Homo sapiens: one gene and its partners. The protein of the gene in region 1 purifies or fractionates together with the protein of each later gene. This does not show direct contact. Each region holds a gene or a part of one and is shown on either strand. Other genes may lie near its edges.

Region 1 (3,654 bases):
ATCCTTGGCAGCCACCCAATGCGCCTGGAGGAACCTCAGGTCCAGCATTATGTAATGATACCTGCTGCTTCATCTGGGTGCCCCCCCAACCACAGCTCCTCCTTTGAGACATTCCCATCCTATTGAAATGCCACCTTCTTCTCAAAGCCTTCCTAGGCTTCAATATACACTGCAGCCACCCACCACAGGGGACTTTCCTGTTTTGCTCATTCCTGCCACCAACTGAAGAGTTACAGAAATAGCTCTGTTGTCTAAGGCAGCGCCACACTGCTCACCTCATATTTATTAGGTGCGATGAAGTTTAAGGTCTCATCAGGGTCATACAGGATGGAGAAGGCCAATTCCAACACCTCCTGAAGGAGAAAGGGTTTAAATTAGAGCGATGGAACAGCCTGGGGTCTGCACATCAAGATCTTGGCCAAAGTCCTAGTGACTCGGCATCATCACCAAACATGCTGATTCAGATGAATGTCATCAATGCTCCTAGGCGGCCACAAGTGTGGCTGGAGATGAGGCCCAGCATAAATCAACCTTAACTTACCCACTCCCTGCCCAAGTCACATCAAAGATGTTGTGATATTTTTAAGATTGGAAAAAAGTCATTTTCAACACTCAGAACCCTGGAAGGTCACGATCCATGACTGTAAGTTATCCTAAAAGTTTTTATATTACCAAGATGACTAACAACTTCTATCGTGCTGTATTTGGCATAGGAATGTCTTAACAATTAAAAAACAAAACAAAACACACACACACACAAAATTGGTCACTGTTGCATGATACCAAGGAACTAACTCATTATTTTGAAAGTAAGTACATAAAAGAAGAATCAGCATTTATTCTCGTTTCCTATATAAACTGTACCACTGGGAAACCAATAGTAGATAAGGGCAAGTTTCATGGTTCAGCTCATAAATGAAAAGCAATGACTGCATCAAAATATCATGAGTTTGCAAACCTTAGTTGACTGATGGAATGAGGCACTGAGCTTCAACAGTCTGCTAATTATCACAAAAGGAGAGACCACCAGACGTTATGTGCCTCTTGATAGAACATAATACCACTGATGACACTGGCCAGGAAAAAAGTTAAACCTGAACTGGATCAAACCTCTAGATCCCTCTTCCAATGTACAGATCTGGGACAGAGGAACAAGTTAAACTGTACCACGGGGAAACAATCAGCAAAATTCAGATGCTAGGAAACTACCAAACAAGCAATCTGGTTCTTCAGCTAATAAACTGCAAAGGAAAAGATGGTGGGGGATGGGGGGGCGGGGGAACTTATGAATTAAGAAACTTAAAAGACCAGTCTTAGACTCTGGTTTAGACAAGATGGGTATGGGGGTGTGTGTGTGTGTGTGTGTGTGTGTGTGTGTGTGTGTGTGTGTATCCATATAAACATTTATATATCTGTAGAGAAATTATGACATTTATAAGACAATTGGTAGAAAGTCACCATCAGTGGAATATTTGATCTGAAATAACTACTTTCATTTCCTGTTATGTGTGCTAATGGACTGGTGGCAATGTTATACACTATACGATGTACACTAAATATTTACAGATGAAACAGTGTGATACTTGGGACTTTCTTCAAAGCGATAAAGGAGAGAAACAAGTGGATGGGCAGAACTGGCCATGGTTGCTGAGTCTGGGTGATGTGTATACAGAGGTTCCATCTATTTTTGTGTATGTTCAAAATTCTTAATAAAACATTCAGGAATAGAGAGGGGAAGATGCCAAGAATGCACCTGGAAAAAACCACCACCAATGGCACTCTCCAAGTATCACTGGGCCAGCTACTCAAACTGGCCTCTCTACTCACCTTGTTCTGTTTCAGAGCACTTTTCTCTTTCATGTGGGGACAATCTTTCCCAGTGACAATGGCCTTAATGTCTGCAACAGGAACTGATAAATGATGGGAATTAGTCTCTGGAAGTTCATGCTGCAAGCTGGTCAGTGCCTACATCAGTGCTGGAAGGGAGGTACTGGGGCAGATGCATAGGAAGCCTCAGCCCCAAACTCCAAGGGCTGCTGTATGAGCTCAGTGAGGGTGGTGGGGAGGATGGCCTTGTACTGTTCCCTCCGTCTTGGTCACTCCTGTAGACCACAGCCCAGTGAGGCTGTGTCAAAGCTAACTGAGGGTCACTTCAGGGCTCTTGGATTTATATCCCCAAGGAACGGGACCTTGGTGACTCCCTTCCCCTCTCCTTCACAATAATGGCGATGATGATGCCATCATCGCCAACAGCAGTGGCAGCTGCTAACAGTTATGCTGACTACCTGCCAACCACTCTTCTAAGTGCTTTGCATACATTACTCATGCAATCCTCTTAGGAGGAAAGTGTGGCTATTATTCCCACTTTACAGGAGAAGAAACCAAGGCAGAGGGGAGAACTTGCAATTAATTAGAATTCAAGTTAATTAGGAGCAAAGCCAGGATTTGAATGTGGGCAGTCTGGCTTCACAGCTTCTCCTCTTAACTACTGCCTTTCGACTTAGTCATGTACCACCCTTTACAGTCTACACAATACATTCACACCTGTGAACTCATTGTTTCTCCAAACCACCCCACCGAGTAGGCCAGGTAGAGGAAATCGCTGACAGATAAGGAAACAGGTCCAGAGAGGTAACAGGTACAAGCCCAGATGATCAGCTACAAACAGCTGGACTAGAACTCCTGTCTCCTGACAAGTCCAGCAACCATGACACATCAACAGAGAAATGAACCTACTTTTCTCCTGCAGGGATTCAAATGTCACCTCCCCTTGTGGGTTGTCATCCAAGTCACCATAGTGAAGGACCTTGTGGTTCAGTGCCAACCGGCAGTACCAGAACCGTTCTGGAACACAAGGGAAGCCAAACAGGTGAGCAACGACAGTACTGGGAAAGGCCTGGGCACAAAAGGGGCCATCCAGGCAGGCTCTTCCCGGCACCAAGGATTGCCCCGTCTCCTCTCACCTTGCCTTCGGCGGTTCCCAATCTTTCGGAAGCTGCTGCCCTCACAGAGCCGGTTCAGGCGCTGCTGCTTGATCAGCTCAAGGATCTCGGGCTGGATCTTCTCCCTCAGCTCCCTGGGGTGGACACACACTGGAGTGAGCGGAAGGTCATGGGGACAGTGGAGCTCTGGAAGGAAAGCAGAGCTGGCAGCCACCTCCCCCGCCAGCCTCCCCTGAGATGGAACTTACACAATTGGCGGGGACTGGAAGTCATCCTGACTCATCCTCTCAGACTGGCGCAGTCGTAGAATCTCAGAGTAACTCAGGCTACGCAATTTGCTCTTGAACTGATCCAAAGAGTTGGGTTTGGAGGGCAAAGCTCGAGTGATTTGCTCTCGGACGACTTGCATAACCTAAGAGGAGAAGAACCCAGCCAACTCACACCACTACTCTTGAGAAATGGACAGGCCTATTATGGAGCACCAAGGCTCTTTCCTGCCCCAGGGTCTTGAGCAGGGCAGGCACTACAGACATCTGCTGGGTGAGTAAGGTATACCTTCTTAGATGGTTATTCAGGTCACATGACTGACACTGATAGATGCTTTATTTCCCATATATTTCAATTGGTCAATGGTGTGGGGGAAATGAGCATGGATTTTTGTAGTCAGAAAGAAATGGGTTCACATCTTGACTCTGTCCCTTCAGCAAGTCAC
Region 2 (3,654 bases), on another chromosome or scaffold:
TGTGCTCTAAAAGAACAAGTACAGAATTATATGAGGAATATCAAATGGTCAGGAGATAAGAAACATCTTCATATATTTAGTTTTCCCTTTCTCTTTAGGTGTAGCTAGGGTGAAGACTAATTTTGTGTATATAGCTGAGGCTTATAGAGTGTCAATTTACAATGTTTCTTTAGTTAAATGTTTATTTATTAAAGACTCTGTTTCACCATACAAGTCCTCATTTGCTGTTGTATGTAGACACCTGTTAAATCCTGCTTGGAAGTTTTTACTGTGTAGTTTGCTATAAATCAGTCAGGCAGGCGAAGTAGAAGATTGGCAAAGCTTTTAACATAGACTGAGCCATTGGAAACAAGGCCTGAGCCACCAAAGCTAGAACAGGATGCACTCCCCACTGCTGCCTTGTGTGGTATGCCTTTAAAGTTTGGGTTCCAAATTAGCTGTTTTGGTTTCTGTCACAGGACAACCAATTGAAAACAGCTCAACCTTTCAGGATAGAGGATGGAGCTAACCTGTAGAGAACTAAATGATGGTTGTTATGCAAAGGTAGGATTTTTAACATCACATATGAATAGTCTTCGGAATATTTCCTGTTGTTTTCATCCAGATTTGTCATTACTGCTAGTTTTTGAGGTTAGGAAAAGAGAGCTGTCACCTTCATGGGGCTTAAAAAAATACAATGTGGAGATTTTCAGTCAGTTTTCAGTCAGAGGAAGGAATACCGGCTGTCCGTCTAGTTTGAATTCTTCATGATGGTATCCTTAGCCATGATCCATTGCTCTTGTTTTGATTATTTGTATTTTAAAGAGCAGATTGATGCAATGGGCTAGTGAGGGCATTCTACCCTATTTTGAGAGTTTGAGAGCTTCACTTTTTTAAACTAAGAATGATAGTGAGTTTAAAAAATATTAGTTGTATTTCAAAATTAACCTTAGGTGTGCTTGAAATTTTCTTATGTACTTCAGTAACAACATACTGGGATTGCAAATATTGTACTTTTGTATACTGTAAAGGGGGAGTTGAAAATACATTAAATAGTAAAAAAAAAAAAAAAAAGACTTGGAATCTAGAAATCCTAGTTTGTATAATGGATTGTAAGAACTTCAGAAGGATGAAGGAGTTGGGCCCTATGCTCTGTAAATATGTTGATTTTTTGCTATTTATTGATAGCTTATTATGTGCGGAATTTTACATAGTCTGGATCTTCATAGACTTCCTCCTTGAATCTCCTGTGTGCACTTGAACGTTTGTATTGCCTGATTTTACAGATGATGACATTGAAGTGCAGTGAGGTCTAGTAGTCTTTCCAAGGCCCTAAGTTTCACGTATGTCCCAGCAGATAAAGTTGCAAATTGATGTAACTGTCAGCCTGGGGGACATGGGAACCCACCAGGGCCCTTGAAGAAGGAGACCTTGGCCTTTGTACCTCCTATCAATGCTACCCCTCTCCAGCTTTCAGCCTAGAGTTTAAGAGCAAACAGGACATCTTATTCTGAATAAATGGTACTACTAATACAAAGTTATTTGAAAATATGTGTTCTTTCCAGAACAGGCATTTCTTCATTAGCAATTGATTTAGAGACTCTGATGGTAAGAATAAATGCATTTGTTTTTACCTAGTTTGTGAGAAAATATGCAGAGATGACTTGGGGGACCACATTTTCCAGATAGCCCTTTCTAGCAGAGTTTGTGAGGTCATGGAGAAAACTACTGTCACCTACGTGTCTCTGGCTTTATTAGTCAGTTAAAGCAAATATAGTTGCATTTACAGAAATACCCCCAAAATGAGTGACCCACTCAGAATGCTCTGCCACCTAGTGTTTACTGGGTGCCTGCTCTGTAGGATGCAACTGCGTGTCATTTCATTTAATCCTTATGAAGCACTATGGGGAGGTAATATGTTCCCGTAATACAACAGAAGACACTGAGGTTCAGGGTGGTAGACTCACTTGTCCAAGGTTATCAAGCTGCCAAGTGGCAGCACCAGAATGACCCCAGTTGATTTTTCTGAAGAGCCAGAGATCTTAACTCCAGTGGAATGAACCAGGGAGGGCCATGGTAGAGAAAAGTCGTGCTGGACCTTGAAGAATTGGAAGGAATATTTTAATTAGAGAGGCCGGGGTCTGGGGAAGAGAGAAGACAGAGAGGGAAGGGTGTCCTGGGGGTACTGATGGCTTAAAGAAGGGCACAGTGGAGGTGTAAAGTTCATGTAAGAGGCAGAGCCTGGCCTTCTCTGACTAGGGCACTGGATTTGGATAAGATGTGGTTCTCACCCTGGGCTCTGAGGCCCCCTACACCCACAGAGGTGGCCTGAGAGGCAGCCTCCCAGGAAAGGAAGACACTGTGAGAGTGAGACTCTCTCCCTGCATGCACCAGCAAAGGGGCTCAGCTTATGATACTTTAGAGTTTCAGGAAAAGCTTTAGTACAGTAGATTCTGTGCTTGAAAAAGGAGTTGCAGCTCACTAGGGCAGCAGAATGTCAGAAATAAACCCGAAAAGTTATTGATGTGCCTAATGGAATTTTGACTTCTGTCTGTAATGCAGACCAGGGGACATCTCTGACTAGTTTTTAGAGAGACACACAAAATAAAACCAGATTTTTCTTTCACCACCTAAAAGATTACACTAGCTGCAGTCTTTTAGGAGAGTAAGAGTTTGCAGGCAAGGTAAGCAAATAGGCATCTGTAGATTGGAACCTTTACACACTGCTAGCAGGAGGATTAATTGGTATCTCTATTATTTTAGTCAGGCTTCTCCAGAGAAAGAGAACCAATGTGTATATACATGGAGATTTATTATAAGAAATTGGCTCACATGATGTATTAGTCTATTCTCACACTGCTGTGAAGAAATACTTAAGACTGGGTAATTTATAAGGGAAAGAGGTTTAATTGACTCACAGTTCAGTATGGCTGGGGAGGCCTCAGGAAACGTACAATCATGGTGAAAAGGGGAGCAAACATGTCCTTCTTCACATGGCAGCAGGAAGGAGAAGTGCAGAGTGAGGTGGGGGAAAAGCCCCTTATAAAACCATCAGATTTTGTGAGAATTCACTCACTGTCACCAGAACAGCATGAAGGTGACTGGCCCCATGATTCAGCTACCTCCCACCGGGTCCTTCCCACAATACATGGGGATTATGGGAACTACAAGATGAGATTTGGGTGGGGAAACAGCCAAATTATATCATTTTGCCCCTGGCCCCTCTGAAATCTCATGCCCTCACATTTCAAAATACAACCATACCCTCCCAACAGTCCCCCAAAGTCTTAACTCTTTCCAGCATTAACTGAAAGTCCACAGCCCAAAGTCTCATCTGAGACAAGGCAAGTACCTTCCGCCTATGAGCCTGTAAAATCAAAAGCAAGTTAGTTACTTCCTAGATAAAAGAGGGGTACAGGCATTGGATAAATACACCAATTCTAAATGAGAGAAATTGGCCAAAACAAAGGGGCTACTAGCTCCATGCAAGTCTGAAATCCTGTAGGGCAGTCATTAAAACTTCAAGTTCCAAAAATGATCTCCTTTGACTCCATGTCCCACATCCTGGGCATGCTGATGCAAGAGGTGGGCACCCATGGTCTTGGGCAGCTCCACCCCTCTGGCTATGCAGGGTACAGCCTCCCCTCTTGGCTGCTTTCACAGGCTGGTGTTGAG
Region 3 (3,654 bases), on another chromosome or scaffold:
TAGTACCTTTGGCTATCAAGACAGGTTTAGCTCTGGATCCCATTCCCTAGAAACACCTCTAAAATTATAGGAGATCATGTTGCAATTATTTATTTTTATTAAGTGGTGGCATGACAAATGGAAGTTCTGGCTCTGAATTTTGTCATGTGAAATAGAGTCTAATTATCCAAAAATACAAAACACTGTCTTACCTAGAAAGTAGATTTTAATACTCAGATAGTTTTTGAAAAAATTTTGGTATTAGAAGTGGTGTCTGTGTGTGTACCTGCATGTGTCTCAAACTCCTGAGTTCAAGGGATCCTCCCATCTCAGCCTTCCAAGTAGCTGGGACTACAGGCTAGTGTCACTGTGCCTAGCTGAAGGAATGCAATATCTCTATCTAGAGAGAGAAATACACATAAATTGCTGAGAAAATATCCTAGAGAAATTTTGGTCACAGGCAGGAATATTAAATCTATTGAATTTAAATGAAAAGACCAAGAAAAACCTTCAACAAACTTTTAACTTCATCTTTAATAATCTCTTACTTAATATATTTCAAAGCTATCTAAAGAAATGGTAATGCACAGTAACTGTCAATACAAATTTATCCAAAAGTTCTATTTGAAATAAAAGGGAATATAAATTTCATAAAGTTATTTTCTTTTGCTCTCTCTCTCTCTCTCTCTCTCTCTCACACACACACACACACACACACACACACACAACTGCCTGCATTTAAACATGATACCAGCATAGGCAAAACCGAAATGATGTAAATAATTGATAGAAACAGGAATGGGGCCATGGTCTCTATCATAAAACAATGGTAATACACACAGATGTGCACACACGTAAAATATGTTAGGCATCACAAATAGAATGTTAGTATTTTGGAATCAAATTTCCACTTGCCTACTTTTTCAATAAGGAACTGGGAATCCAAAATTTTATTCAATCACCATAAGCAAAACACCATAGAAATAAACTTTTGTCTTTCTGTGATCATTGAGAAAGAAAGATGAGTGCAAGAGCACAGAGGTGAAAGTGAAAACAACACCTTATGCTCATAAACAGGAAGAAGTGAGCGGATGCTGCTACTGTTGTTATCACTGCTCTTACCATCAGTGGGATTTTTCTTTGACCTTTGTCTTATTTATCTGTAGTTTGCACACGGGGCCTCTCATCAGTGGGTTGGGATTTTGGCTGCAGTGGCAGCTGTTGCCATTCAATGAGCACTTACTACATTCTGAGCATGTGCTAAGTGCTTTACATGAACAAGCCCAATGAGATAAGTATTATCCATATCCCCATTTTACCGATGAGGACACTGAAAGTAAAATAAGTTTACAACTTGCTCAAACTCATAGAAGTAAAAAGTGGCAAGCCCAGAGTTTACTCATGGGCATTCTCACTCCAGCTTCTTAACTATTATGGCTGGTATTTTGTTATCGGAGCCTTAGTTTTCCTTAACGTCTCAACAACATTAAAGCCAATTATTTTAAAAATGCTTTATAATCAATAGAGGTATTATTCCCATGAGTTCAGCAGAATATAAATAACCTCAAGGTTGCCTGTCAGTGGGAAAAAAAAGGAGAAAATAAAAGAAAACTAAATGTAAAATTGTCTAGGAAAATAAAGCAACTGTACAGATGACAAATACGCTACCTACAAATACCATTTTGAATATTTTTTCAAAATGGCTAAAAGTATAAACTTACACAATCTGTAGCATTAACTTCGACGCCAGCATCAAGTAGCATTCGTACAAGAGCCTCATTCTGCTTTGTCTTTGATACCTATTACAAATGGTAATTATAAGAAAGGCTTATTTACAAATAGTTTCTCCAATTTATGCCTGAGACTATTTAATCAATAGGCTTCATTTTAATCCCAACACTCCTATGCATGCATGCACCCTTCCTAAAATTTCCCCCAGCTTCTCACTCACTCTAATATCAATTAATTAAAGCCAGGTTCTCAGACTGTGGTCCTGAAGTAGCGGCACTGACACCTAAGAACCTTAGAAATGTACTTCTCAGGTCCCACCCCAAACCTACCTAATTCCACTGAGGATGGGGCCTAGTACCTGTCTTTCCCTTCCTGGCTCAAAGCTGTGCAATTACTTCCCATTGCTCTGAGGACAAAAGTAAACTCTTCAGCATGACCTACAAAGCCCCGTATGTTTTGGCTCCACGTATGGCCCTGCCCTGGCCTCTCTCTCACTCTGCGCCTCCTGGCTCACTCTGTTCTACTTACATTGGCCTTTGTTAATCTTTCATTCTCAGAGAATCATTGCACAGGAAGTTCCTTCTGCCTAGAAGCCTCCTCCCTCTCTTCTTTGCCTGGCATATTCACCTTTCATTCATCAGCCCAAGTCCCTCTTTCTCTAAGAAGCTTTCCCTGACCCACCTGACCAGGTGAAATCCCTCTTTTTTAGCTATCCTAACACCAGTCGCCTTTCTGTATCACCCGCTTTATGGTAATTTTACATGTGTTTGTGCCATTTGATTAATGACTCTCCCCACCACCCTCTAACTCTCATGGGGTAAAAAACTATGCCTATTTTGTTCATCATTGTGTCCCTAACAGCTAGCACAGCGTCTGGCACATAGTAGGTCCATAATAAACATACGTTAAAGAATTGAACAAATTAATGAAATGAACTAGGACTCCTCAGAAATTCACTTTTCCTTCCCAGTCTCCTGAGCTTCTGACCACAAGCCTGTTGGAGTCTTCCCCAACTTCCAGTCTCCTGAAGAGGCAAAGCTCTCCCTGCTCAGCTGGGTATAGCCCTGGAGTTCAACCCTGTCATCACCTGGGAAGCTCCATCCAGTTCTCTCTCCTTAGGCTTCCCTCTTGTGTCACCTCCTAAACTGCCTTTCTCTGCCTACTTTTCTCTGAAATAACCCAATGCTTTCCTCTCTCCTCCCCTATCATTTCCTCTCATGTCACTTATTTGTTAATTCATCACAAATTTACAACTTTAGGCCCCATTAATAAATTGCACGTGCATGAAACTAGAGTTGAGCTATTCATTACGATTACTATTTTTGCCCAGTCCTCCAGCCTCTAAACATTGAACCATCTTAGAAAGCAGAGTTGTGTGTCAATAAATTCTGAATGAGCCTTCTAATCACAGTTGTAATTTTTACCTTTAGAATCTCTAAAAATGTTTGTAAATAAATAACAGATTCTCCCTGCCCCCAAAATACATGTATTTAAATGCTATGTGCTAAATACATAATGAATTTTTAAAGAATTCTTCGAGGATATGAGCAGATTATATTTTTATTAGTGAATTAAAGTTCTTTTCTCTCTCCTATAAATCCAAATATAAAAATCAACATTGTCATGTTTAATTATAGTTCCTCAAATTCTGTGGCATTTAAATACCCAATGAAATAATAACATTTTTGACGGGCAGACTTGTTCTGCGGCTGATGTTAACAGGTGTAACCAATATTCACAGTTTATGAGCTACAACAAGGAGGGAGCTTGGTCATTTAATTAAAGTAAATTATGCATCTCTTGAGTCATGTCTGAGAAGTGGAACTGGGCACAAAGGAAACTAGATGGATAAAAGTGAGTAAGTCAGTGCAGATCTGTTACCCTATTGGGAAAAAAAACCAAAAACCATCTCAAGCTTCATCTTCTACTCCTCATATGACTGCA

What was found.
Region 2: the proteins of ELMO2 (region 1) and CD226 purify together in Homo sapiens (co-immunoprecipitation; one large-scale study listed by IntAct). This does not show direct contact.
Region 3: the proteins of ELMO2 (region 1) and ANKRD22 purify together in Homo sapiens (co-immunoprecipitation; one large-scale study listed by IntAct). This does not show direct contact.

Annotation. Positions count from the first base shown.
Region 1 is NC_000020.11:46,368,616-46,372,269, forward strand, and holds part of ELMO2 (engulfment and cell motility protein 2), read right to left. Parts: intron 3,355-3,654; coding exon 3,191-3,354; intron 3,077-3,190; coding exon 2,964-3,076; intron 2,845-2,963; coding exon 2,737-2,844; intron 1,911-2,736; coding exon 1,828-1,910; intron 354-1,827; coding exon 276-353; intron 1-275. UniProt on the Homo sapiens protein: Involved in cytoskeletal rearrangements required for phagocytosis of apoptotic cells and cell motility. Acts in association with DOCK1 and CRK. Was initially proposed to be required in complex with DOCK1 to activate Rac Rho small GTPases.
Region 2 is NC_000018.10:69,941,373-69,945,026, reverse strand, and holds part of CD226 (CD226 antigen isoform a precursor), read left to right. Parts: intron 1-3,654.
Region 3 is NC_000010.11:88,824,338-88,827,991, forward strand, and holds part of ANKRD22 (ankyrin repeat domain-containing protein 22), read right to left. Parts: intron 1,779-3,654; coding exon 1,701-1,778; intron 1-1,700.